Linked DNA regions of Homo sapiens: regions 1, 2 and 4 are each reported to be linked to region 3. The links are microRNA targets in miRTarBase. Many come from high-throughput screens and were not tested one by one. Region 3 holds a microRNA gene; each other region holds the end of a gene's coding sequence.
What was found. Region 3 holds the annotated microRNA hsa-miR-548d-3p (CAAAAACCACAGUUUCUUUUGC, at 3,370-3,391, shown strand). A microRNA usually pairs through its seed, bases 2 to 8, with sites in the 3' UTR of a target mRNA and lowers its output. Matches are read on the target gene's strand: a 7mer-m8 pairs with bases 2 to 8, a 7mer-A1 pairs with bases 2 to 7 and ends in A, and an 8mer does both.

Region 1 (7,122 bases), not on the chromosome of region 3:
GGTCATCTTTATTCACAGGAGGTGAAAGCACCATTCACACAGCATCGGAGCAGTTTTTTAAGGACTCTGCTTAGTTAGGAAGGAGGGAGGCATTCATCTTCTCATTTAATGGCACCATTTGCACAACTGAGCAACCATGGAAGCATTTCACTGTGACCGAAACACTTCTCACCACTGTGGCTTGGCATCTTTTTGTGAGAAAAAAGGCTCTAAAGAAATATGCTACCTTGCATTTGACATTCAGTTATTAAATTGTGTTGTGAAAAAGTGTAACATGCGGGCCGATTTAACAGCCTCATATAAATACTGTGTCCCAGAATGAACAACTTAAAAGAGGGGTGAACTGGTCACTGGGTAATCCTGGAAGAAATGGAAGACCAGCATTCTTCATCCATTATCAGCTGGATGGTAGTGCCCCTCTCGTGGGAGCTGAACATTATGAAGTGGCCTTCCTGTCAGTAGAGCTCAGAACCCTCAAATACCTTCTGTTGGGATTGCGAGTCGTATGTTCAGACTATAAAAAGGGCAGAGATAAGAAAGAGGATGTTTCGAAAACACCAAAGTAACTAACCCTTTAGGAGTCCTTCAACCTCCCCAGTTACCCTTGGCGCGCAGCATTTGAAGCTGTCTGTGAGGCCATCCTGCGCTTGTTTCCCTCAGACACTTTGTTTTTCATGTTTTGGCAGAATCTCCAATGAAAACTATGTTCCTCACGGGCTGAAGGTGGTGCAGTGTCACAGCCAGGGTGGCCTGCGCTCCCTCATGCAGCTGGAGAGCCGCTGGCGTCAGCACTTCCTGGACTCCATGCAGCCCAAGCACCTGCCCCAGCAGTGGTCAGTGGACCACAACCATCAGAAGCTGCTCCGGAAATTCGGGGAAGATCTTCCCATCCAGCTGTCTTGATAGCTGCTTTCCTCCCAGTTAGGACAAGTGGGAAGCTGGAGCCAAGGTTGAAGAGTCACCTCTTCCCATTTTAGTACATCATTAATTGTCAAAGCCTGTGTGACACAACTCAGAATACTAACCTAGACTAATCCCAGGATGCTTCTGCTGGAGCAAAGATATTGTTTGAAGGAGAGTTTATGGTTTTGGATTTTAAACGGGCAGGGTCTTTTTTCCTCTCATTTTTGTGGACAAGAGAGGCCTTCGCCTTTATTTTTACTCTCCCTCTTCTGCTGTCCCTGTGCAGAGGAAAAATGAAGAATTCTCCCAGAAGTGACTTGTCAAGACTTAAAAAAAATGTTTTTAATGCATTTCTTCCTTGTCTAGTGCCTCGGTTTATCTCTAACAGGGGCTGTCCAGTATATCGGTCCTGTTAGGAGGGGAGAAAAAGTTCTTCCAAAGGCTGGAGAAGTGAACAAGGAGTCAAATTTATTTTCCCAATTCAACTTCATAATTATCATTTCTTTGGCTTCATGCTCTCCCGTAACTCATGTGGTTGGGATCCATCCCATCTGGGTCACTTCAGTCTACTTCACGTACTTGAAAAGGCTTTCCTTTACACTTCCAGGACCAAACAGCAACTTCCTGCCACACACTTCCACCCTATCACTGGGAGAAATCCTTTTCTGGACATGAGCCTTTGACCTGGGTGGGGCAGAAAGAACCACAAACTCCATCTCCCAATAGAACTTTGAAATTCACTCAGCTTTTCCTTTCATGCTGTTTGTTGCCTGCTTGTTGCACTCCTCCTGCCCCAGAACTGCAAGATTTTTAGCTTCACCCCTTTCTGAGAGTAATGTTATCTTTTATCAGAATCAGTATCAGTTCCCCTGTATTCTGTGCTTCATCGAATTTGCAAGACTGACCTCTTTTAAGCATTTAATTCACTCCCAGAGTCATCTGGTCAGGTTGCAATATGAGGACTTCTCTGTCTCCTCTGAAGCCTGGGACACTGAGCTTACTTAATACATTAGATGTTCAAAAGAGGAGCGTTGTTTCATCTTTCAAAATGTTAGGCCATTACTTTGAGTATAAAATCGACTTATTAATGATTAGTAATTTTTCTAAAGTATTGGGAAAACTTTCTTATTTTATAAGATCTTAACAAGCTTAAAAAAGAATTTTATGACCAGAATCCAACAAGAGCTCTATTTTGGAATTGTGCCCAAGTTGGTGATGTTTACTCTAAAATTAATAATAAAACTACTTGTAAGCACAAGGCTCACTGGATGTAAATGTAAAACTTCGCGACTTTATAAAACTGGCATTCCTAGGGGAGGGGCTATTTATCCTACAGGTCCCTGCCTCCTGGCAGTGCCATGGTATGTGTGCATGGATATACCAGACACAGTCACCATCGGCCATCAGTAGCAGCCCATGAACCCACGTGCACATCCTGCATCTTGCTCTTCTGACCCTTCATTCCCACTTGTCTTCAGGCAGGCATTTCTGGGATCTAAACTAGAAATCCTTGAAAACAAATAGTACCAGCCACTTTGAGGAATGTGCATTCACTGTAGTGGGTTATTATGGGGTCTCTGCCTCCTGGCTGTGTTATGCGGAGCCCAGGAGTGGAGGAGAGCCGTGGAAATAGACAGGGAGAGGCTGGTACTTGGGTTGTGGTAATAGTCAGGCTTGCCACAAGAGGGCACTCATAGATTTGTTTTTATATTCATTCTTGAGAAAAAAGCAACTGGTTACTGAACGTAACTCATGACTTATGTTTCAAATTTTGCATAGCTGATTTTAAGTCATTTTGATAGCTTTGCAAGAAAAATTTTTCCTTTGAAACAAGGGAGTAGGGCTGTTTCATTTTCTTTCCTTCTAATCCTCATGCCAAGAGGTGAGAAACACTTAAGGTCATTTAAGGTGCTAGGGAAAGGGTTTTCCCATGGAGCTTTCTGTGAGGCGCAGTAAAATAGAGCCAGCAGCAAAGTAGAGGAAAAAGCCAGACTGCGTCACACAAGATTTCTCATCCTTTTCAGGAGAGAGTCACTGTGTAGATTTGAATCTTTTTTCTTTGAGTCTGCTTTGAACTTTAGCAGGCTTTTCCTAAGACTGACAATTGTCGTCTTAAATCAGAGATTTGAGGGTAGACTTATTTTATGGCAAATGTCTATTTTTCTGATATAAAAGTAACAATGCTCATTACAGAAGAATCTAAACAAAGAATAAAAATTAGCCATCTTCTCTCCATCTAAAACAGAGCTAAACTTTGCTGATATGTTTATGAATTTCCTTTCAGTATTAAAAAGTGCATATAAGGTGTATATTTACACAAAATTGAAGGTCATACATAGATACAGGTTGGTATCCTAACTTTACCCTCTCACTGATTAACATGGTATCACGAGTAACTTCCTATGTTTTTAAATCTTTGAAAATAGATTTCTAGTGGTTCTACCTTATCCATCCCCACACTGTTGAAAATTTTGGTTGTTTCAGATACTTTTATTATCAATGATGATGTGATAAAGTTTCTTGTATATATCTCTTTGGCTCTATCTTTGGTAATTTCTTAAGAATGGAATCTTAGAATTGGACTGTGAAGAGGGGGATTCACATTGCTGGGGCTAAGTACAAATTGACATCACCTTTTAGGAATGAAATGCTTCTCTTTGACCCTTTAGCTCCAGTGTCCCAGCATAGTCACTGGGCTTCATAGGAGTAGCAGTGAGAGGACAGTGTCACAGCAAGGGCCTCTCTGCATGCTCCCTGATCATTGTGTTTGCAGGTTCAGCATTTCTTCTTGAGTCCTTCCCTTCTTCCAACCTTATTGCCTCATTTCCCCCTTGTAGTCAATGTTTTTTGGAAACACTGTTTATTTTAAAATAAAAATGTAAAAAAAAGGTAAAAAAATAAAATTTTAAATTTTAAAATATAGGCTGTAGGCAGATGTTTTTTCCCTGCTACACAAACAATTAGTGATTTGCCATCCCAAAGTGAATGAGGCACAATATTCAGGGATTTGTTACGGCTTACGCTTAAGAGCACAGCCATAAGTTACTTATTCTTATCCATGTCACGGATAGAGATCAGATGACAAAATGTGTTCTGTTGAAATAAAGCCATTTTAATCATGCATTTTAGACTCTTAAGAATCCAGCAGGCAGAAAGAGGTTTTGTTCACCTTCCTATTCGCCTATTAGTTTGGGGCCCTAACATTTGACTGTAAGTTAAGTTCTTAGTTTACCCTGCCTCTCAATTTTTCATTCATTTATTTATCCTTTCTTCCTTTTTTTCCCCTTCCTTATGTCTCAGCCTTATAAGAAGTATCATTTTTTCTTTTAAAGGAGATATTTTCTCAGTTTGCTAGTTTACTAATTATTATGTATTTTAAATGGATCTTTCTTTCTGGTCTTTTATGTTTCCTATTATAAGATGGTTATTTTTTGAGAGTACCTAATCCCCTTAGGGATACACTGAGAATCAGTTTCTGTTGGAAGAGATAAACTAAAAGAGGGTATAAGAATGATTCTTGTTTTGATTAACTGTTGATTGATATGAATAACATAAAAATAATACATAATCTCCCCAGTACTTTTTTTTTTTTTTTTTTTTTGACATGGTCTCACTCCAGACTGGAGTGCAGTGGTGCAGTCATGGCTCACTGCTGCTTCAACCTCCAGGGCTCAGGCAATCCTCCCATCTCAGCTTCCCAAGTAGCTGGGACTACAGCCTTGTGGCACCATGCCTGGCTAATTTTTTAATTTTTTTGTAGAGATAGAGTCATGCTTTGTTGCACAAGCTGGTCTCAAACTCCTGGCCTCAAGCCGTCCTCTCACCTTAGCTCCCAAAGTACTGGGATTACAGGTATGAGCCACTGTGCTCAGTCCCCCAAATACTTTTGTTTTGGAATTCAGGTATAATTTTCAGGCATTCACCAAGATACCCCTTGTGCAAGAGCCCAGCACCTTCTGCCTGTCCCAGTCCTGGAGTAGTTTTGCATCAGGCAATGGAGTAGGGATGACGTGCAGCCACACAGCCCATGTGTTCAAAAGTACCGATTCCACCAGCCTGCTAGGAGACGTATTAGTCACTCCCTTTGCTTGAGGAAGCAAGGCCTTGCTTAAATGCTAGCATGTTATTTAGAAAGGTGGGAAGTACATTAGACCATTTTTTTTTTAACCAGCTTTATCTGTGGCCAACTCTGGTTGAAGGCCCCTAGAAACTGGGTAACTGGACCAAATGGTTAATCATTTGAGAGATAATCAAGAACTGCCTTTGCAGAGGAACAGAGTTGTCAAAGGACCTAGTTCATGCATCCTGGGTTGTACCCCCTTCTGATGTGGTGCAGGCTGCCTCAAAGGTCATTTTGTGTTGTGACTGAATGGAGATAATGTCATACCCTCCAGACTGAACTCAAAGCATTTGCTTTTTGCTATTTGTTATTCTTGAATTTTTCTCTCTTGCTGGATGGGTAGCCTGTTGCCTTTCTCCCAGCATAAGCTTCAAAAGCTGCCGAGTTTACAGGCAGCATTATTATAAGCATGATGTTTGGGTTCAGAAAATTCCTGAGTTGAAATGGCTACTTAGAATCTGCTTCTGCTGCTGCTGCTTTTTTTTTTGTTTTTTTTTTTTTTTTGAGACAGAGTTTTGCTCATGTCATCCAGGCTGGAGTGCAGTGATGCAATCTTGGCTCCCTGCAAACTCTGCCTCCTGGATTTAAGCGAGTCTCCTGCTTCAGCCTCCCAAGTAGCTGGGGTTACAGGCGTGCACCACCGCACCTGGCTAATTCTTGTATTTTTAGTAGAGACGTGGTTTCACCATGTTGGTCAGGCTGGTCTCGAACTCCTGACCTTAGGTGATCCGCCCGCCTCAGCCTCCCAAAGTGCTGGGATTACAGGCGTGAGCCATCGCACCCGGCCCCTACTTCTGCTTCCTAAAGATCTCCCTTCTCAGGCTGCAGCACGCCAGGGCGGAGTTGAGATTCTGGCCACTCAGGCCACCAGGGTATCTATTAAGTCCTGGGTAAGAAACAGAATTTTGAGCTTAGTCAGCTACAGGGGGCTGAAAAGGAATGAGACTGAAACATGGATAATTTTAAAGGAGGTATGTTTGTTTAGTGGGGATGGGGTAGGCTGGGGGCTTGTTCATGAACTGAACTTTAAATTTTGCTCTTTCCTATACCTAGTTCTGTCATGTATTGGAGGATCAAAAAAAAGTGTGCTGGTGACTGAGGTTCTGGTTCCAGCCACCAGCTGTGTGCCTTTGGACAGATCACTTTTCTGGGCTCCTTTCTGTATCTATAGAGGTTTGAATTAGATGTGCTGTAAGGGCCCTCCTAGCTGTAGCATTCTGTAATCCACCCCACTGTTTCCTTATGTGGCCCTTTCCCTTGAGTACTGTGTACTTTCTGCTTTGTTGCACACTCTCGTCCCACCCCCAGCGCTGGGAATGGAGACTGCATGGAAAGAAGGGTAATGAGGGAAGCAGGATGCCACACCATGGCCTCATTGACTAGGGAGAAGCCTGCTCTCTCCATCTGGTGTCAGAATACCTGTCTCACCAGAGATGTCTGTGTGTGGGGAGCTCACATTTCCCTATCGCCCAGTCCACTGAATAATCAGAAAGAGAGAAGGGAAATCTGTATGTTTAACCACATTGCCAGTGCTCTAGGATTTAATAGGAGATAAGTGTAAAAGGGAAATGAGGCAAGTGTGCCAGGTGTTGTAGATGGGAGGATATTGAGTGGGGAAAGACTGTTTCTCATTTTAAGGATAAAGAAATTAAGATTTTATATATATATACACACACACACGTATATATACATATATACGTATATATGTGTGTATATATACATATGTATATATACACACATATATGTATGTATATATGTATGTAATGGAGAATTGAATTGGGTACTTTGAAAAAAAAACCTTAAACCAATAAGTAAAAATACTCTTTCTGTGTTTTGTGTGTGGGGTTGTAACAGCCCAAGAATATTGGAGGCGTCCACACTGTTAACGTGTTCTTACCCATCCATGAGTGCTAAGACATGAAGAACTCACAGGGAGACAGGGAAGCATCTCCGGAGCCTGTTTTGTATAACCCTGACATGCCTTGGACTTTGTCCTGCTTGCCTTTGCCTTTGCCTGGGCATCAGCTAGACAGACATGTGCAAAATGTAAAGTTTGCATTTTATAAGCTGCTGAAGACATTTCTTTCTATATCTCCATC
Region 2 (7,122 bases), not on the chromosome of region 3:
GAAGACTCCCTGTCAGTACTTCAGTATGGCTTAGGTAGACCTTAAAAGTTCCTAAGAATTTTGGTATCAAATTAGATTTAAATAAGCTAAGCTTTTTAAGCTACTCCATGGCAGCCTGCCTTCTTACACATTATCACATAAGCCTCAGTTGGCATGTTGTTTTTAACTTCATACTGTAACAATTTGATGATATTATCTTTCCAATATGGGTTTTATAAAGATTGGAAGATTATCTCAAGTTGTAAATGCAAGGATTTAATAATTCTATTTGTTAAAATAATTATATGACCCTATTAATTCACCCAGAAATGCTTTACAGAAGCATATTAAGGATAACATTATCAAAAATAGTTTTATAATTTTTTTTTTAAGACAGGGTTTTGCTCTGTCACCCATGCTGGAGTGCAGTGGTGCCATCATGGCTCACTGCAACCTCAATCTCCCAGGCTCAAGTGATCCTTCCATCTCAGCCTCCTAAGTAGCTAGGACCATAGACACCCTTAACCACACCTTGCTAATTGTTTGTATTTTTTGTAGAGAAGGGGTTTCGCCATGTTGGCCAAGCTGATCTTGAACTCCTGGGCTTAAGCAATCTACCGGCTTTGGCTTTCCAAAGTGCTGAGATTACAGGCATGAGGCACTGTGCACAGCCTTATTATTTTATTTTTAATCTATACCATAATTCTCACTCCTTCTATCCCGTTGTCCGCATATATACATATCTACCAAAGACAGGTTGAGGGAACAGGAAAATGGCTGTTTTAAAATCCTTGACCTTTCCTGCATTGTTTATGTATGAACTGTCAAATTTATATGTCATTTTTTTATTCTTTGACATTCATATTTAGTAGACAGTATAACTCCCTAGAAGTTAATCTTGATAGTTAATTTTTATTACTTGGGATTTTGTTCCTCACTTAAAATTGTTTAATTAAAAAATATGTTTAATTATAATTCTAAAAGTCAAATGTATGATTTTTCTTTTTTCAGAAAGTCTTTATCTCTTGCAAGGTTCAGTAGTGGCAGATCATGACTACATTGGATTGCCTGAAATTCCGATTGGAGCATATCAAGCAAATATTCTGGTGGAAGATGCAACTATTGGTATAGTCGATAATGAATTACTGACATCAAGCAAGGATCGTGAACTATTAGAATATAGAAATACGAAAATCTCTCCATTGATAGACGATCATAGTTCTCTTGAAAAGCAGACTTTCAGTCTGTTGGACTCTTCAAACCAGGTTCTTGAATACTTAAGTTAGTAAATACCAAAATTTATTTAAATTGTTTGTTTAGAATATAAATTCTTAATGATATCTTATTCATTAAAAACGTTGTATAGAAGAAGTATCTTGACACATTCTTAATGACTATATTCTGAAGGTTTATTTTATAGTTCTTATCTAAAATTATGCCACATTTGAATATCAGTATACGTACATATGAAGGCAAAGGAAGCATGTAATATATAGAATTCACTTTTTCTTCTAAAAAGAGAACAGGCAAAGCACCCCTACTTCTTGGGAAATAAATTCCAGCCCAAATCTCTCAAACCTTTGTATGGTTTTGGCACCGTTTCTAAGTTTTAAATTTTCTGAAATTCTCTACCATTTAAACAGTAAGTTTGAACTACCTTGAATGGAATTGATAAATACTGAATCAACTGTAACAATGAATGAAATGAAGCTTCTTTCTGTTTCATTAGAACTTCTAAAAACAAGATTGTATGAAAAAATATAGGGTTATTTAATAGGCTTTCACAGAATATTGGTAATTTCAAATTATCTAATTGGTTAGATAGGGTCAGGATTAGGGTCTGAAACTATGTATTGGTTGGGAAACAATTTGTTTATTTTCATACTATATATTAAAGATAAAACCATCGACCAGGCATGGTGGCCCACACCTGTAATCCCAGCGCTTTGGGAAGCCAAGGCAGGATGATCACTTGACCCCAGGAGTTCGAGACCAGCCTGGGCAACACAGGGAGACCCTATCTCTACAGAAAAATGTTTAAAAATTAGCCAGGTGTGGTGGCACATGCCTGCGGTCCCAGCTACTCAGGAGGCTGAAGTAGGAGCATTGCTTGACCCCAGGAGGTCGAGGCTGCAGTGAGCCGCGCTCATGCCACAGCTCTCCAGCCTGGGCGACAGGGCAAGACCTGTCTCAACAACAACAACAAAAGTATCCGTTAAGAATTTTTTCTGCAATCATAAAATCATAAAATAACCAGTATCAAAGATTTTAAACTGTAATTTCTATGATATTCATAAATATAAAATAAATATTGTTCAATAAATATTTATTCTAAAGCACTATGAAAAGAACTGTGGGAAAAGTAAAAGATGAGTCAAACGTGTACCTCATTCTTATAAAGGACTTACTGTCTGGTAGGTAATAAACTATGTAAGCCATGTACAGCACAAGTTAAGGCATGCTAAATTGCAGAAGACAGGTGTAGATAATGTACTTAGGGAGGCAAAAAGAGAGAAGTTGTTTTTACATAGGAAATTTGTGTTTATCCTTATGGAAGAAGGATCATTTAAGCTTGACCTTGAAGAATGTATAGGATTTGGTAAATGGATACAAAAGAATTAGGGGAGAAGTAATACACAGAAATGGAAAAGTATTGTAATGATTCATAAAAAGGCAGGGCTTCTTGTTGTCTACACTGCCTCGGGTATAAAGTGAAGAAGCAAGATAATGAGGGATAAAGCTGAAAAGGTAAGTAGGAAACCTTATGGAGAGCTTTGAATACTATTAAGGATTGATATGTGCCCCTCCCAAAATTTGTGTTGAAGTCTTAACCCCCACCACCTCAAAATGTGACCTTATTTGGAAATGAGGTTGTTGCAAGTGTAATTAGTTGAGATCATATTTCAATAGGGTGGGCTCTAATACAGTATTACTGGTGTTCTGATAAAAGGGGAAAATTTGAACACAGACTCAAGGAGAATGCCATGTGAAGATAAAGGCAGAGTTTAAGATTATGTTTCTATATGCCAAGAAATGACAGAGATTGCCAGAAAACTACCAGAAGTTAGGGGAGAGGCATTGAATACATTTTTCCTCATTCCTCAGAAGACCAACCCTGTCAATACCTTATCTCAGACTTTTGCCTCCAGAACTGTGAGACAATAAAATTCTATTGTTTCAGCCATCCAGTTTGTGGGACTTTGTTACAGTAGCTCTAGCAATAATACAAATGCCTGGCTAAATTATTTCTTTTCTGAGAGCAAAAACTTTGTATAGGAAACTGTCATAATCAGAACTGTGTTTTTGGAAGTTTAATCTGGCAACTAGTAAAGAACAGATTAGAAGAGGAGAAAACAAGGCATGGAGATTAGTTGAGAGGACTTCGCAGTGATGACGAATACTAAAAACCTAAACTGGGCCTGTAGCATTGGTAATGAATGGAGTCTGTCTTAAGATCAGTACAGAATATCGCACATATTATATTTCACAACCATACTGAACAGTGATGTGATATCAAAGATGGAGACCTGGAGTATTCTGATTACTCATTTAAGAAGAAAGATTATGTTTAATATAGGCTAAAGGAAAAGTGTTTAGGGTAGGGTGTGAATCTAGGACCTCATCTTATACCACAGACCAAATAAATTTCAAACAGAATTCCAGGAAGAAAAAAACAAAACTTTTTTTAAAAAAGCGTAATTGTATCAAACAGTGCTACCTATCCTGCTTTCCTCAGAAGAGCAAAGTTTAGAAAAGAGTCATATTAGAATATCTTTTTGGTAAATATAAGTGACTTTTTCTTAGCTCAAATGAAGTAACTTCTTTTTAATGATTATCTGACTCAAAATCAGCCTCTTTTCCCCCCATTTCAAGAAGGTGATTAGTATTCAGAGTCATTTTAAAATAACCAACTCTAAACATATTTTTTTTAATTTTTGCTTCTCCTAAGTAGTTTCTCATTAAACAGACTTTTATCCTGTGTTTATTAGTCATGTTAGGCTAGATTATTCTGTGTCTGCAAACCACTTCCAAAATCTTAGTAATTTAACAAAGCTTTATTTCTTGGACACCCCACATATTTCTCTTAGTTCATCAAGGGCTTGTCTGCATTTTCATCACCACTGCTGGATGTGGGGCCATGGTTCCCCATCTCTGGAATAACAGCTCACCATGACAAGGGAAGGAAAACATGAACTGAGCATTAGATCTCAAAAGTTGCTGCAAAGTTATGCACATCTTTTCTACAAAGGTGAAACATAGCTACACAGTGCTAATTGGTATGGGGTTTCTTTTTGTGGTGACAACAGTGTTCTAAACTTACTAGCGATGGTTTCATAACTTTGAATATACTAAAATCTACTGAAATGTACAATTTAAAATGGTGCTCCAGGTAGGCATCCACAGTTCCAGGCTCCAGGACAGTCCCTGTGGTTCAGGGTCCAGGTCTTCCCCAGTAGACCTCAGAGGGCAGGCTGGCCCCTGAGGACCCAAGCATCAGGCCAGCCCCCCATGAGGACCCCACTAGATTGCCCACCATGAACCTCTAGACTGGCAGACTGGTGAAGGGCTTTCTCTGCCAAAGCCAGTCTATGAAGACTGGAAGAGGTGCCTATTTTTTTTAATGTGCAGGTAGCAACACAGACTGCAAGAATCCTGAATAATCAGGGAAACATGATGCCACCAGAAGAACAACAACAAAAAAGCACCAGTAAATGACCATAAATAAATCGCCATCTAAAAACTGCCTGAGAAAGAATTCAACACAATTATCTAAAACAAGCCAAATGAGCTACAAGAGGGCACAGACAACTAACCAAAATCAGGAAATTTACATGAAGAAAATGAGAAGTTTAACAAAAAGAGAGAAAACATATTTAAAATTAAACTTTAGAACTCAAAAACACAGTAACTGCACTGACAAATTCAACAAAGAACTTCAAGAGCATACTTGATCAAGCAAAATAAAGAATCAACAAGCCGAAAGACAGAGCCTTTGAAATTACCTTGTTAGAGGAAACAAAAGTGAAGAAAGCCTATGGGCCTTTGAGACACCATCAAGTAAACAAAAATGTTCATTATGGGAATTCTAGAAGAAGCAGAGACAGAGAAAAAGGAAGAAAGCTTTTTAAAAGAGATAAAGACAGAAAACTTTCCAAATCTGGAGACGGAAGTGAACATCCTTATCTAGGAATCCCAAGGAACACCACATAGAAGAAGTATAAAGAAATCTTCACTGAAACATAATCAAGTTCTCAAACTTATAAAGCAGCAACAGAAAAGCAACATTACATGCAAAAGAACCTTCATAAAACTATCACCAGATACCTTGCAGACCAGGAGAGTGGAATGAGATATTTAGCCAAAGAAACTCAACCAAGAATACTATACCCAACAAAGCTGTCCTTCATAAATGTAGAAGAGACAAAAACTTGCCCAGAAAAAAAGCTGTGGGAATTTGACACACTAGACCTGTCTCACAGAAAATTCTAATGGGAGTTCTTCAAGTTGAAATAAAAGATGCTAGCTAACAACATGAAAACATATGAAAGTATTAAACTTACTGTAAAGGTAGGAACATAGTCAAATTCAGAATACTGTAATGGTGGTGTGTAAATTGCTTATAACTCTAGTATGAAAGTTAAAAGACAAAAATATTTCTTAAACTAGCTACAATAATGTGTTAATGGCTACACATTATCTAAAGATGTGATATTAATAACAAAACGTGGGGAGAGAAGAAATTTTAAAAGTGTAGTTTTTGTATGTAATCAGAATTAAGTTGTTATCAGGTTAACATAGACTGATATAACTATAAGATGTTTCAGATGTGCATCATGGTAACCACAAAGGAAAAACCTGTAGTAGATACACAAAAAGGATAAAGAGAAAGGAGTCACAGTATACCGCCGCAAGACATTGTTATATCACAAAGGAAGACAGAAAGAGGAAGAGAGGGAAAAGGACCTACAAAACAGTGAAAACAATGAACAAAATAACAGTAGCACATCCATAGCTATCAGCAGTTACTTTAAATGCATTAAATTCTTCCATCAAAATACAGAGTGACTGAATAGATTAAGAAAAACAAACTCTAACTATATGGTGACTAGAGGAGACTTCAGATTAAGGATGCACATAGACTAAAAGTGACAGGATGGAAAAATATATTCCATGCAAATGGTAATCAAAGGAGAGCACAATGGCTACACTTACATCACACAAAATAGACTTTAAGTCCAAAGCTTTCACAAAAGACGAGGTTATTATATAATGATAAAGGGGTTAATTCATCAGGAAGATACTGCAATTGCAAATATATATACACCCAACATTGGAGCACCTAAATATATAAAGCAAATAGTAACAGAATTAATGAAGAAATAGCAATACAGTAATAGTTGGAAACTTTAATGCCCTACTTTCGCTAATGGATAGATCATCCAGGCAGAAAATCAACATGGAAACAGCAGACTTGAACAGCAGTATAGACCAATTGGATCTAACAGATATATGCAGAACATTCCTATTCATTAGTAGCAGAATACACATTCCTTTGACGTAAGTACAGGACAGTCTCCAGGATAGGTCATGTTAAGCCACAAAACAAGTGTTAATGAATTTAGGAATATATTAAAAGTATATCAAGTATCTTTTTTGACTCAAGTGGTATGAAACTAGAAATCCAAAATGGGGAAGACTGAAAAATTTGCAAGTATGTAGAAATTAACATAACTCCTGAACAACCAGTGGGTCAAAAAAGAACTCAATACTGAAATGTAAAAATATCTTGAGACAAAAGGGAAACAAAATAACCAGACCTTATGAGAGAGACCAAAAGCAGTTCTAAGAGAGTAGGTTATAGCATTTTTTTTAAAAAGAAATGACCTGACTCTACATCTCAAGGACTAGAAAAAGAACTTAAGCACAAAGCAGAAAAAAGGAGATAAATGACAGAGCAGAAATAAGCAAAATAGAGACTAGAAAAATAGTAAATGTCAATGAAATGAAGAGTTAGTGTTTAGAAAACATAAACAAAATTGATAAGCCCTTAGTGAGACGTAAGAAAAAAGAGAAAAGACTCAAAATTATAAATGTGAGAATAAATATGATCACTGATATCAGCAAAATAGAAAGGAGCATAAG
Region 3 (7,122 bases):
ACTGCTTGAGCCCAAGAGTTTGAGACCAGCCTGAGCAACACAGTGAGTCCCCCTCTTCAAGAAAAAAAAAAAAGCCGCCGGGCATGGTGGTGTGCACCTGCAGTCCTAGCTTCTCAGGAGGCTGAGGTGGGAGGATTGTTTGAGCCCGGGAGGTCAAGGCTGCAATGAGCTATGGATCATGCCACTGCACTCCAGCCTTGGCAACAGAGGGAGACAAAAAAATAAAAATAAAGAGAAGAAGAATCCTACGGATTGCCAGAATTGTGTGTGTTAATTTTAGATCTGTGGTTCTCAGCATGGGGCGATTTTGCTCCCCAGGGCACATTTGACACTGCCTGGAGACATTTTGGTGGTCACTGCTGGGGAAACAGGAGAGGGCACTAAAGCATCTAGAGGGTAGAGGCCAGGGATGCTGCGACACAGCCTGCAATGCACAAGACGGCTCCCACAACAATGAATTATCTGCTCCAAATGTCGGCAGGGCTGAGGTTGAGAAACGTTACTCTAGAGGCCAGGAATTTTGGCCAAGACAATTAAAATTCCAAAAGTCAACTTCCCATTGTCGTCACAGAAAACATCTTGACGGAGAAGACAAAAGCTAATTAGTTGGAACTCCTTCAAGTTCTCCTTCCTGACATGGAAATCGACCCTCCCAAACTTTCCTCTTACCCATTTGTGGGAACAGGGTGTCCCTTGTTTTTGCCAAGACCCCCACCTCCGGATCTCCTTCTCACTGACCTTCCTAGGAACTTCGCTCCATCCACCGCCCATTCCTCCCCCAGCATCTATGCTCCTCCTCCCCACACCTCCTGCTACCTGGCTCACAGTTAGGTTAACTTAAAGTAGTCCATTTTCCCATCTTAAAAACATCTCTCACCCAGAGAATAAAATAAGTACTTGTGAGTCCACACTGATATAAATAAATGAGAGGATAGATAAACAAATACCTGGAGAAGAAACAAATTTCCCTTACAGAAGAATTCCATGTAATAAAGGCAGAAGGCATGGGAGAATAGAAAATCACCAGGAGAACATTACAGTAATAATAGCTGCAGGCAGGGTCCACTGAGGAATGTTAAGTTCATGGGCAAACTTTAAGGGGAAACAGGATACCTGCATAGGCTCAACACATCCCTCCAAAAACATTTATTAGCCAGGTGAGGTGGCATGCACCTGTAATGCCTGCTACTCTGAAGGCTGAGGCATGAGCATCACTTGAGCTCAGGAGTTCAAGGCCAGCCTGGGAAACATAACAAGACCCCATCTCCAAAAAATATTAAAAAGCACACCAGGGCCGGGGGCGGTGGCTCACACCTGTAATCCCAGCACTTTGGGAGGCTGAGGCGTGCAGATCACGAGGTCGGTGAAACCCCGTCTCTACTAAAAAAATACAAAAAAATTAGCCGGATGTAGTGGCGGGCGCCTGTAGTCCCAGCTACTCGGGAGGCTGAGGCAGGAGAATGGCGTGAACCCAGGAGGTGGAGCTTGCAGTGAGCCGAGATTGTGCCACTGAACTCCAGCCTGGGCGACAGAGCGAGACTCTGTCTCAAAAAAACAAGCAGGCCAGGTAAAGTGGCTCACGCCTATAATCCCAGCACTTAGGAGGCCGAGGTGGGTAGACAGCTTGAGCCCAGGAGTTCAAGACCAGCATGGGCAACATAGTGAGACTCTATCTCTAAAAATAAGAATAACTTTTAAAATAATAAAAATACATTAATTGGCCGGGCACGGTGGCTCACACCTGTATTCCCAGCATTTTGGGAGGCCAAGGCGGGTGGATCACGAGGTCAGGAGATCGCGACCATCCTGGCTAACATGGTGAAACCCCTTCTCTACTAAAAATACAAAAAAATTAGTTGGGCATGGTGGTGCGCACCTGTAGTCCCAGCTACTCAGGAGGCTGAGGCAGGAGAATGGCATGAACCTGAGAGGCAGAGCTTGCAGTGAGCCGAGATCAGGCCACTGCACTCCAGCCTGGGCTACAGAGCAAGACTCCGTCAAAAAAAAAAAAATACCACATTAATTATGGTGCTGGTTTTAGCATATGTCCACAAATTCTTTGAAACCCCTCCCTGTAGGAGGCAGGGCCTAATCTCCCTCCCCTGAGTGACTCACTTCTAATGAATAGACGGTAAGCTTGTCCAACCCGTGGCCCAGGACAGCTTTGAATGTGGCCCAACACAAATTCATAAACTTTCTTAAAACATTATGATATTTATGCACAGACCTTTTTTTTTTTTTTTCTTTTGAGACAGAGTTTCCCTCTGTCACCCAGGCTGGAGTGCAGTGGTGCAATCTCGGCTTACTGCAAACTCCTCCTCCTGGATTCACACCATTCTCCTGCCTCAGCCTCCTGAGTAGCTGGGACTACAGGCGCCCACCACCACGCCCGGCTAATTTTTTCTATTTTTAGTAGAGATGGGGTTTCACTGTGTTAGCCAGGATGGTCTCGATCTCCTGACCTCGTGACCCACCCGCCTCGGCCTCCCAAAGTGTTGGGATTACAGGTGTGAGCCACCGCACCCGGTCCTTTTTTTTTTTTTTTTTTTTTTTTTTTTTTTTAGCTCAACAGCTGTCATAGTGTTAATGATGTATTTTATGTGTTGCCCAAGACAATTCTTCTTCCAATGTGTCCCAGGGCAGCCAAAAGATTGGACACCCCTGGAACAGAGTATGGAAAGGGAAATTAGCAGCTTACGGTGGGTAACTCTGGTAGACAACGCCTTAACCAAGTGATCAAGGTTAACTTCACCAGTGAGCAATCAGGTAGATATCATGTGCCCCCTAATATTATGTGATGAGAAGGCCATTTCACCTCTGGGGTATTCTTTCCCCAAACCCCAACTGCAGTCTAATGATCAGAAAACATCAGACAAATCCAGATTGAGGGACATCCTACAAAATACTTGACCAGCCCACTTCATAAATGTCAAAGTCATAAAAAAACAAGGAGAGACAGAGAAATTGACATAGATTGAAAGTGACTATTATGATATAATAATTAAGTGCAACATTATATCCTGATTAAATCCTGGAACAGAAAAAGGACATTAGTGGAAAAAACTGGTGAAATCTGAAGAAAGTCGGGAGTTTAGTTAATACAACTGTGCCCATGTTAATTTTTGAGTTTTGATAAATGTATCATAATTAGTACGATATTAACATTGGGGGAAGGTGGATGAAGACTACGGGGGGTTCTCTGGATTTGCAACTCTTCTGTAAATCTAAAGTTAACTTTAGGGGGTATATGATGTCAACCTGATTTAGCTAAAGTTAACTTTAGATTTACAGAATAATTGCAAATCCAGAGAGAGGGAAGATTTAGGTTGGTGCAAAAGTAATTGTGGTTTTTGCCATTGAAAGTAATGGCAAAAACCACAGTTTCTTTTGCACCAACCTAATAAAATAAAAAGTTTAAAAGGAAAAAAATCTCTCAAATGAAGACGTAGGTCCACACAAGGACTTGTATGTGAATGTTCATTGCAACTTTACTCAAAATCATCCAAAACTGGAAGTAACCCAAATGTCCATCAACTGGTAAATGAATAAACAGACTGTGGTATATCCATTCAGGGGAATGCTACTATGCAATAAAAAGGAACAAACTATTGATACATCCAATAATATGGATGAATTTCTTTTTTTTTTTTTTTTACATTTTTTTTTTTTACATTTTTTTTTTAATTTATTTTTTTATTGATAATTCTTGGGTGTTTCTCACAGAGGGGGATTTGGCAGGGTCATGGGACAATAGTGGAGGGAAGGTCAGCAGATAAACAAGTGAACAAAGGTCTCTGGTTTTCCTAGGCAGAGGACCCTGCGGCCTTCCGCAGTGTTTGTGTCCCTGATTACTTGAGATTAGGGATTGGTGATGACTCTTAACGAGCATGCTGCCTTCAAGCATCTGTTTAACAAAGCACATCTTGCACCGCCCTTAATCCATTTAACCCTGAGTGGACACAGCACATGTTTCAGAGAGCACAGGGTTGGGGGTAAGGTCACAGATCAACAGGATCCCAAGGCAGAGGAATTTTTCTTAGTGCAGAACAAAATGAAAAGTCTCCCATGTCTACTTCTTTCTACACAGACACGGCAACCATCCGATTTCTCAATCTTTTCCCCACCTTTCCCGCCTTTCTATTCCACAAAGCCGCCATTGTCATCCTGGCCTGTTCTCAATGAGCTGTTGGGTACACCTCCCAGACGGGGTGGTGGCCGGGCAGAGGGGCTCCTCACTTCCCAGTAGGGGCGGCCGGGCAGAGGTGCCCCTCACCTCCCGGACGGGGCGGCTGGCCGGGCAGGGGGGCTGACCCCCCCCACCTCCCTCCCGGACGGGGAATATGGATGAATTTCAAAAACATTGTGTTGAGCAAAAGAAGTGAGACACAAGAGACTACATCTGTATGACTGCATCTATAGGAAACTTTAAGAAAGGCAAGACTTTAGTGCAAAAGCAGATCAGTGCTTGTTAGGAACAGGAGTGGGGAATGTGGGGGGTAGAGAGAAGTAATTGACAGCTAAAAGTCACAAGGGAAGTTCTAGGGGTGATGAAATGTTCTGTATCTTGATGGGGCAGTGGTTACATGACTACAGTGTGTGTATATATATGTTAAAACTCATCAAGCTGTACACTTAAAGTGAGTTCTATTCTATGTTAGCTATATCACAATATGGCCAGGTGTGGTGGCTCATGCCTGTAATCCCAGCATTTTGGGAGGCCAAAGTGGGCAGATCACTCGAGGTCAGGAGCTTGAAAACAGCCTGGCCGACATGGTGAAACCCCATCTCTACTAAAAATACATAAATTAGCCAAGTGTGGTGGTGTGTGCCTATAATCCTGGCTACTTGGGAGGCTGAGGCAGGAGAATCGCTTGAACCCAGGAGGCGGAGGTTACAGTGAGCTGAGATTGCACAACTGCACTCCAGCCTGGATGACAAAACAAGATTCTGTCTCAAAAAAAAATTATATATATACATATACACACACATATATATATTATATATCACAGTAAAGCTGATTTTTAAAAAATCTCTCAGCCCCTGCTATTGCTTTGTTTTTATCCTCCTGAGCCTCTCTATAGCTATGGCACTTGAATTTCCTTCTTCCTCTTGGTGGCTTTTGTTCTGTCTTATTTCCTGATGCCCTTTCTAGGTCCCTAAACATTAGTGCAAAGAGGGCACCAGAGCAGAGGGGAACAATTCTCTCTACACTCAAGTGGAATCTCTGAGCTGAGGGACCCAGAGAGGTGGAGTAGCCAGCAGGGCCCTGATGACCCGCACCTGAACTCCCACGGGTCTGACGGCTGCTGTCACAAGAGCCTGGGGCCGCTGGTCTGAGTGTGCTGGCGATCCAGCCAGGCTCAGGACGCTGAGGAGGAGGTAACCGAGACCAGGCTTCTCCCTTGTCAACAGGCAGACAGATCCCGGGGATCTTGTTAAAACACAGAGGCTGATTCAGCAAGCTGGGCGGGGGCTGCAGATTCTGCATTTCTAATAAGCTACGGAGTGATACGGTGCTGAGGGTTGGAGGCCCACACTCTGAGCTCAAAACGGAGACCACAGGGATATGCAATGTGTGCAGAGAAGGGGGAGGATGGCACAGGCTGCAGCAGTGGGGCGGGTGCTTGGCTACACTTGGAAAGGAAGTTCTCACAGTGTCTACAGCAGGAACCCAGACAGTTTCTGAGCCATCCTGGGGCTACTACAGGGACTGGGAAAATTGCACCAGTTGGGGAACAAAAAGTAAACAATGGTCTTATTACAATTAGTATGGTCTTTATTGCATGTAGGTGACAGGCCCTTAAAGAAGGTTTCATCCAGACATTCTCCCAGATCCCTCTCCATACTCTCTCAAGAAAGTCACCTGGGCCAGGCGCAGTGGCTGACTCCTGTAATTGCAACACTTTGGGAGGCCGAGGCAGGCGAATCACCTGAGGTCAGGAGTTTGAGACCAGCCTGGCCAACATGGCGAAACCTCGTCTCTACTAAAAATACAAAAATTAGCCAGGCGTGGTGGTGGGTGCCTGTGATCCCAGCTACTTGGGAGGCTGAGGCAGGAGAATCGCTTGAACCTGGGAGGTGGAGGCAGGAGAATCGCTTGAACCTGGGAGGCAGAGGTTGCAGTGAGCCGAGATAGTGCCACTGCACTCCAGCCTGGGCAACAGAACAAGACTCCGTCTCAAAAAAAAAAGCGGCCAGGCACGGTGGTTCACACCTGTAATCCCAGCACTTTGGGAGGCTGAGGTGGGCGGATCACGAGGTCAGGAGATCGAGACCCTCCTGGCTAACACGGTGAAACCCCGTCTCTACTAAAACTACAAAAAAATTTAGCTGGGCGTGGTGGTGGGCACCAGTAGTCCCAGCTACTCGGGAGGCTGAGGCAGGAGAATGGCCAGAACCTGGGAGGCAGAGCTTGCAGTGAGCCGAGATCATGCCACTGCACTCCAGCCTGGGCGGCAGAGTGAGACTCCATCTCAAAAAAAAAAAAAAAAAAAGGAAAGAAAGCCACCTGTTCATTCCTGTGGCTTCACCACGGCTTCCCCAAGGGACTCCCAAATCTGTCCCTGATGCTGCTCCTGCACGCCCCCAGTGTTGCTAACAGCTGGTAGCTATCTCCAGCTCCTTAATTGAGCCTGAAACTCACCATGTCTCAAACATGCCTGCTTCCTCCTGTACTATCTTCATCAGCTGGTGGTTGTACTAGACACTTCTACGACTCTAAATAACCCTTCCATAGCATTGCCTGACAACCAAGACCAAGAGATAGTCACCCCTTGTCACACTCTCTAGTTTCTTTTATAATGGTTATCTCAGCTGCAATTAATTAGGGACAGGATTATTTGTGAATATCCATCTCTCTCACAGGACAATAAAAGGGCAGAGGCCCTCTCTGCTCTGTGGTCTGCTTCCCACTCTGCCCCAGCACCAAGCCGAGAGGCTGGCATGAAATACAAGACATGCAATTACATCGTAAGTCTCCAACTCAATTCTGACACATTAGGAGTCTCTAAACACAAACATTAGGGACCATGTCAGTTTCTGAAATGCTCTTGTTTACTGACATTTAATCATTTTCCCAGGGACGGCTTTCTACAAGATCAGGCTGACCTCTTTGGGGGTTTT
Region 4 (7,114 bases), not on the chromosome of region 3:
TACTTAAAAAAAAAATACAAAAAATTAGCCAGGCGTGGTGGCGGGCACCTGTAGTCCCAGCTACTCGGGAGGCTGAGGCAGGAGAATGGCGTGAACCCAGGAGGCGGAGGTTGCAGTGAGCTGAGATCGCGCCACTGCACTCCAGCCTAGGCGACAGTGGGAGAATCTGTCTCACAAAAAAAAAAGAATCAGGGCAGAGACCAGAGGCAAAGAAGAGCCACCCAGCATCATCGTCTACAGCTTAATGAGAGGGCTTCTCTTTTTTTGTCATTCCTGCTAGGGAGCAATGTGAAGTGTACCTAGAACGGGGGTGTTGATGGAACTGGGCCAGTTCAACTTCTGCGTTCTTTATGTTCTTTCCCACTGCAGCTTTTCCTTCCCTCCATGAGAAAGAAGCCAGCTCTGTCTGACGGCAGCAATCCTGACGGCGATCTCCTCCAGGAACACTGGCTGGTTGAGGACATGTTCATTTTTGAGAATGTGGGCTTCACCAAGGACGTGGGCAACATCAAGTTTCTGGTCTGCGCAGACTGTGAAATTGGACCAATTGGCTGGCATTGCCTAGATGACAAGAACAGTTTCTATGTGGCCTTGGAACGAGTTTCCCATGAGTAACTGAGGGGAGGGGTACTCAGCTCCATCTCCAAAGATAAACCTACTCCCCACAAGAACTGGCCTTTAATGTGGTATAACTGTTCCGCTGCCTTCTTGTCTGTGCTAATATAAATACTGAGTACCAGCATGTCCATTTGAACATGCAGAGGGTTAATCCTGCTTCCTAAAGCCTCAAGTACATGCCTCCTGCTTAGTTCACTTTGTATCACATTTCCTAAGCTCCCTTTTCCCCCAGTTTTGGGACACTGTGCTTACCTCCAAAAATCTCATCTCTTCCCTGGCATTCTCCCTAGGCTCTGTTTTGCCCAGGGGCTCCCGCTTTTTCTTGCTCTAGAAGAGCAGTATTCAACCTTTTAGCTATGATGACACATAACAAAAGATGCTTATGTACTAATAGTTGAAATCTGCCTTTTTCTCATTCAAGAAGGCATACAAATATCTGAGAGTGACTTTGTTGTATGGCTACCCTTGTGATCTACAGTAATTTATTCTTTCTAAAGGTAAAGCATTTTCAAAACTCAGTATTTAAACCACTAACCAGAAACATTACTTTGGATGCATCTCTAATACCATGTTTGAGCACCTCTGCTCTAGGTTGAGAATGACATTTTATTGTGAAGATGGGTGTGGTCCCTCTTCCCTTGAAATCTTGTAGTTTCTTTTTATATTAGCTCCTCACTGCTACAGCCTAGAAGGTGAGAAGCAGATTTTAACCCCATCTGGCAGCCATTCAAGGAAAACCCAGCCCTGGCTGTTTACTCAGGCTCTCTTAGAATGAGAGTGGAGGGTGTAGGATATGAGGGTTAGGCCTTTGCCACATTATACAAAAGTTTATAATTTGCCACATCTGGACAAGTAACTTTCTTCTTTTGTTCATAGGCAAGACTTCTTTAATGGATAGTATCATTTACTGAACCTACTGGGCATGGTCCTCATGGAGTTTTGGTTCAACTGGAATCTCTGTGCCAACCCAGGATACAAACTTCCATCCAGATGCATGGATACAAATTTCCATAGCTCCGGGGCTGCTCTAACAGTTTGATATCAGCAGACGTGTTTAAGCCTTCAACTTGATTTCCAATTATTCCATCATTTCTATTCTGAAATGACTCACTGTCGTAGAAGGAAGTTTATTATATAACCAAGGTTTCAGGTATCCTCCTGTCACCACCTCTACTATTCAGGAGGCCTAAAATTGAAATAAGTACTAAACAGAAACCTTACCATCTGAAGTCCCTTCCATTGTTTTCTAGTTGCTTCCTCATTCCTTTACCCCCAAACTTTCTAAGGGCTCCCCGACTGCAGTGCAAGGTGGCCTTGGGCACAGTTTTGCAACCAACCTACTCCCCTGGAAAGATGGCTTCCTTCTCCAATTAGCCTGAATGAGCTTTAGTAAGCAATTGAGAGAACTGTGTTTTTCCGACAAACGGTCACATGTCCATCGTTATGGCATGTGCAGAAAAACAGAGTTATCCACACAAGTCAGGAGCAAAACCCAAGTAGATGCCTCTAGGGGCACATGGCCCCTCACATCACAAGCCAGAACCTAAGCTAAGCATTTTTTAAATTGAGTTTGAGACTAGCCTGGGCAACATAGTGAGACCCCATCTCTATTTAAAAAATGAACAAAATTACCTGGGCATAGTGGTGTATACCTGTAGTCCCTGCTACTTGGGAGGCTCAGGTGGGAGGATCACTTGAGCCCCAAAGATGGTGGCTGCAGTAAGCCAAGATCACACCACTGGCACTCCAGCCTGGGCAACAGAGTGAGACCCTGTCTCAAACAAACAACAACAGTAACAACAAAAAAATATATAGCGACTTGAATAGGAAACCATAGTATTTCATTGTTTTAATTTGCATTTATTTTATTTCTAGTGAAACTTTTATATACGTATCGGTCATTTCTATTTCCTTTTTTGAGAACTGCCAAATGTTGCCCTAGTAGCCAAAAATATCAGGTTGCTATTCTGCCTTTTCAGTTTGATCTGAAAGAAATAAAGGCATTTAAGCAATGGAAATTAGATTTCTGCATGTCCTTGGGAAGAATATATAAATTGAAAAAACAAAGGAGAGCTGAAACCTGAACCTTGGGGTTTAGCTTAAGGTCAACCAACTGATTATCTAGTCAGCTATAAAATGCAAACGTCATTTCTTCATTTCCCTCACACCTAATAGGCTCTCAGTACATACTTGTGAATCAGCTGCTATTTGCTGTGGGTAGATAGAGGCAACCTGTGCTTTCTGCTCCGAGTATAGAAACTTCCGTTTTCTATTGGGGAGAGCAGTTGATTTTGTGAAAGCCTGATTGTTTCCACATAATTGTCTGTTGTTTTACAAAAACATGGAATCAAAGATGGGCAGTGGTGTACTGACATTTCACAAATTGTCACCATGTTGTATATGAGGCTACACATGTAACTGAGTAACTATGAGGACTTCTGCTTCTGATAATGGTGGATAGGTCCTTTGGACTACCCAGCTCACTGGTTAACTAGAAAGGCTGGACAAAATACTTTAGAAATCTGTGTGAACACACCAAGAGAGCCGACTTGACTTTGAAGAATTGCTAAACCAGGACAGCAGAGGAGATGGGAACCCTGGGAGGTGGGCTTGGTGTGAGGGCCACCGTTCTCCTGGGAGCATTTGCCAAACTTGGAGGTGATTCAGAGGCTTAGCAGTGATTTTAGCAGCCTTTCAGAAGTAGGGGATGGGGCCTGTGAAAGGGCGATGGACTTGGTGGTGTTACTCACTTTTGGTTGAAGCCCTCAGTCTTTTGCACCCCAGGAATAAGGGTGAGGCGGTGTAGGAAACAGGCTCTCGGGACTGCAGCCCAGCCTCCGATTACGGATCTTAATCCTTGAAATTAGATTAAGGTGATCCCAGAGTGGTAGTTTGCCCAAACTCTTTGGATAAGCAAACAAAACCCCTCTCTAGAGGATGTTATTATTATCCTAAACCCAGATTCTTTCTACAATTTTGCTAATACAATATCCTGAGTACAACAAGATGTAACCAGGCACGTGAGACAAGATAGCAGGCCCACAGTGGCTGGAGACATCGGTGCTATCAGACTAAAATAACTGCTTACCATGTTCAAGGAGAGACACTAGTTTGGGAATTCAGCAGCTACATGAACATGTTTTTTTAAAAAGTAAATTCTAGAATTTGTAAGAATCCAATAATCAAAATTAAGAATACAGTGGAAACTTGATTGGGCATGGTGGCTCATGCCCATAATCCCAGCACTTTGGGAGGCCAAGGCCGGCGGATCATGAGGTCAGGAGTTCAAGACCAGCCTGGCCAATGTGAAACCCTGTCTCTACTAAAAATGCAAAAATTAGCCAGGCATGGTGGTGCACGCCTGCAATCCCAGCTACTCCGAAGGCTGAGGCAGGAAAATCGCTTGAACCCAGGAGGCGGAGGTTGCAGTGAGCCGAGATTGTGCCACTGCACTCCAGCCTGGGACAGGGAGAGATTCCGTCTCAACAAAAGAAAAAATACAGTGGAACCAGCATGGGCAACATAGTGAGACCCTGTCTCCACAAAAAACAAAATAGCTGGGTGTGGTGGCACCTGCTTGTAGTCCCAGCTACTTTTGAGGCTGAGGTGAGAGGATCACTTGAGCCCAGGAGTTAGAAGCTTCAGTGAGCTATGATGATGCCACTATACTCAAGCCTGGGCAACAGTGAGCCCCTGTCTCTAAAGTTCACTGGAATGCTTTAACAGCAGCTTAGGCACAACTGAGGAGAGAACTAGAAAACTAGGGGTTAGACATAACTAACAGTAGATATGTAAGACCACAACACAAAACCTTATATGACATTACTGAGAGAAAGTAAAAGAAAACAAATTCATGGGGCCAGGAAACTATAGCCCACAGGCCAAATTCATTCAGCCAGTACCTATTGAGGCTCAGAAACTTTCAAGCTAAAAATAGTTTTTACTTTTTTTTTTATGAGACAGGATCTTAACTCTGTTACCTAGCCTAGAGTGCAGTGGCACAATCACAGCTCACTGCAGCCTCAACCTCCCAGGCTCAGGCGAGCCTCCCAGCTCGGCCTCCTGAGTAGCTGGGAACACAGGCATGTGCCAGTGCGCCCGGCTAATTTGTATTTTTAGTAGAGACAGGGTTTTGCCATGTTGTCCAGGCTGGTCTCAAACTCTTAGGCTCAAGTGATCCTCCCACCATGGACTCCCACAAGTGCTGGAATTACAGGTGTGAGCCACCGCACCTGGCCGATTTTTATGTTTTGTAAATGGTTATGTAAGTATATAATATCTCCAATTCTGCCTCAGCCCACAGAGCTTAGAATACTTATCTAACCCTTTAAGAAAAAAGTTTGTTAACTCCTAATACTGTTAACAATCTCAACTTCAAACTGATGTATAAATTCAGTAAATCCCAGTCAAAAACTCAAGTTTGTGTGTGTGAAATTCAACAAACTGATTGTAAAAGTTAAATGAAAATGCAGAGGACGAGGAGTAGCCGAGACAGTCATGGAGAAAAACAAGGTGGGAGAATTTTTCTATTGGACAGACAGTGTAGCTTGTCACAAGGATAGACAGACTAATGGAACAAAAGAGCTCAGAAACAGACCCACGCATATAGGACACTTGATTTATGATAAAGGTAGGAGTAATGATTTGGAGGGGGCATGAGGAGAGCTTCTGCAATGCTAGTAATGTTCTACATTTTAAAATCTTGATAGTTGCTATGTAATAAAGTGAGCTGTACATCTTCTGTGTACTTTTCTGAACATGTATTTTCACAATAAGGTTTTTATTTTTCTTGGGACAGGGCCTCACTCTGTCACCGAGGCTGGAGCGCAATGGCACGATGGCGGCTCACTGCAACCTCGAACTCCCAGGCTCAAATGATCCTCCTGCCTCTTAGCCTCGTGAGTAGCTGGGACTACAGGTGCATGCTGACATGCCTGGCTATTTTTTTTTTTTTTTTTTGGAGAGATGGGGTCTCACTGTGTTCCCCAGGCTGGTCTGGAACTCCTGGCCTCAAGTGATCCTCCTGCTTCAACCTCCCAAAATGCTGGGATTACAGGATTACAGGTGTGAGCCACCATGCCTGGTGACAGTAAGATTTTTAAAAGAATGTAAGTAGTGGTTCTATATAAAGCCCACTTTTCTAAACATCAGTTCTTCCCTTCAAAATCAGATAGCATTTCATTTCCATTATCTCCTAAATTTATACATATTTAAAAGTTAATAGCAGGGTGTGGTGGCTCATGCCTGTAATCCCAGCACTTTGGGAGGCCGAGGCAGGCGGATCATGAGGTCAGGAGATAGAGAACACGGTGAAACCCCTTCTCTACTAAAAATACAAAAAATTAGCCGGGCACAGTGGCGGGTGCCTGTAGTCCCAGCTACTCAGGAGGCTGAGGCAGGAGAATGGCGTGAACCCGGGAAGTGGAGCTTGCAGTGAGCTGAGATCCCGCCACTGCACTCCAGCCTGGGTGACAGAGTGAGACTCCGTCTCAAAAAAAAAAAAAAAAGTTAAATGCCTGACTCTACTTCCTCACTTCTAAGGATGATAAATTTCATAAGAATAAGGACTCAGAATATCCTATTTGCTCTTGGTGCATGGCCTAGTGTCTGACAAATTTATAATAGTTCAGTAAATAGTTTTGAAGAGAATTTAAAATAAACTCTGCTGAGTAGTGTTATCATTTTAATGGGACTAATTTAAAGAAGTTCATGCAGACTTTTGAAAATGGAGCTAGAGGTTAGAGCGAATTATATTTATTTTTTGGTTTACTGCAGCACTTTATTTTTCCTTATGTAAATAACAGTGGAAAACCAAAATTTGTGGTCATCTCTTTAAAAATTGAGAATTATGTACAAAAAACTTACATAAATTAAAAGAATGAATAAATTTACAGGTGTAAATGTAAACCGCTTCTAGCTCAAGACTTAACACTAATAGACCAGCAAGACAGAAATGAAACTGGTTCAGGAGCTCTTGCCAGGCTCTAGAAAAATCCTGGAATGGCTGGGCACAGTGCATCACCTAAGGTCGGGAGTTTGAGACTAGCCTGACCAACATGGAGAAACCCTGTCTCTACTAAAAATACAAAATTAGCCGGGTGTGGTGGCGCATGCCCGTAATCCCAGCTACTTGGGAGGCTGAAGCAGGAGAATCACTTGGACCCAGGAGGCGGAGGTTGTAGTGAACCGAGGTTGCGCCATTGCACTCTAGTGTGGGCAACTAGAGCGAAACTCTGTCTCAAAAAAAAAAAAAAAAAAGGAAAATCCTGGAACACTGAGCTCTCTGACACCTTAGTACCTGCACAGATAAGGAGACTGCAGGTCACACAGACCCACCAAGCCACAGACTTCCCTCCCACAAGCATGTCCTCACCTCAGCCATGAAGTTACTGAGCCACATGTACTAAGGGTATAAATCAAAGATATGTACAGGGTATTAAACAAATACCAAGGGAACGGTTAACAAAGTCAAAATCAGCACCAAGTTCTACAATCC

Region 1: the mRNA of EXD2 is a reported target of hsa-miR-548d-3p. Seed matches in the 3' UTR shown: 7mer-A1 at 1,242-1,248, 7mer-A1 at 2,605-2,611 and 7mer-A1 at 3,308-3,314.
Region 2: miRTarBase lists GIN1 as a target of hsa-miR-548d-3p. Seed matches in the 3' UTR shown: 7mer-A1 at 2,499-2,505.
Region 4: miRTarBase lists RABIF as a target of hsa-miR-548d-3p. The part of its 3' UTR that is shown has no 7-base or 8-base seed match.

Annotation. Positions count from the first base shown.
Region 1 is chr14:69,240,198-69,247,319 of GRCh38, forward strand. EXD2 (exonuclease 3'-5' domain containing 2) reads left to right here. Exons shown (of 10, transcript NM_001193360.2): 10 at 687-3,821. The coding sequence ends at 903. All of the region lies in intron 2 of GALNT16-AS1 (GALNT16 and EXD2 antisense RNA 1), which reads right to left. Among named protein-coding and RNA genes, the nearest start is that of GALNT16, 16 kb to the right of the region's middle.
Region 2 is chr5:103,082,041-103,089,162 of GRCh38, reverse strand. GIN1 (gypsy retrotransposon integrase 1) reads left to right here. Exons shown (of 8, transcript NM_017676.2): 8 at 991-3,163. The coding sequence ends at 1,265. Among named protein-coding and RNA genes, the nearest start is that of GIN1, 35 kb to the left of the region's middle.
Region 3 is chr17:67,467,773-67,474,894 of GRCh38, reverse strand. It overlaps MIR548D2 (microRNA 548d-2), which reads left to right and starts at 3,310; the gene lies at 3,310-3,406. All of the region lies in intron 1 of PITPNC1 (phosphatidylinositol transfer protein cytoplasmic 1), which reads right to left. MIR548AA2 (microRNA 548aa-2) reads right to left here and starts at 3,406; the gene lies at 3,310-3,406.
Region 4 is chr1:202,874,479-202,881,592 of GRCh38, reverse strand. It overlaps RABIF (RAB interacting factor), which reads left to right. Exons shown (of 2, transcript NM_002871.5): 2 at 370-3,311. The coding sequence ends at 615. It also overlaps the pseudogene ACTG1P25. Among named protein-coding and RNA genes, the nearest start is that of RABIF, 11 kb to the left of the region's middle.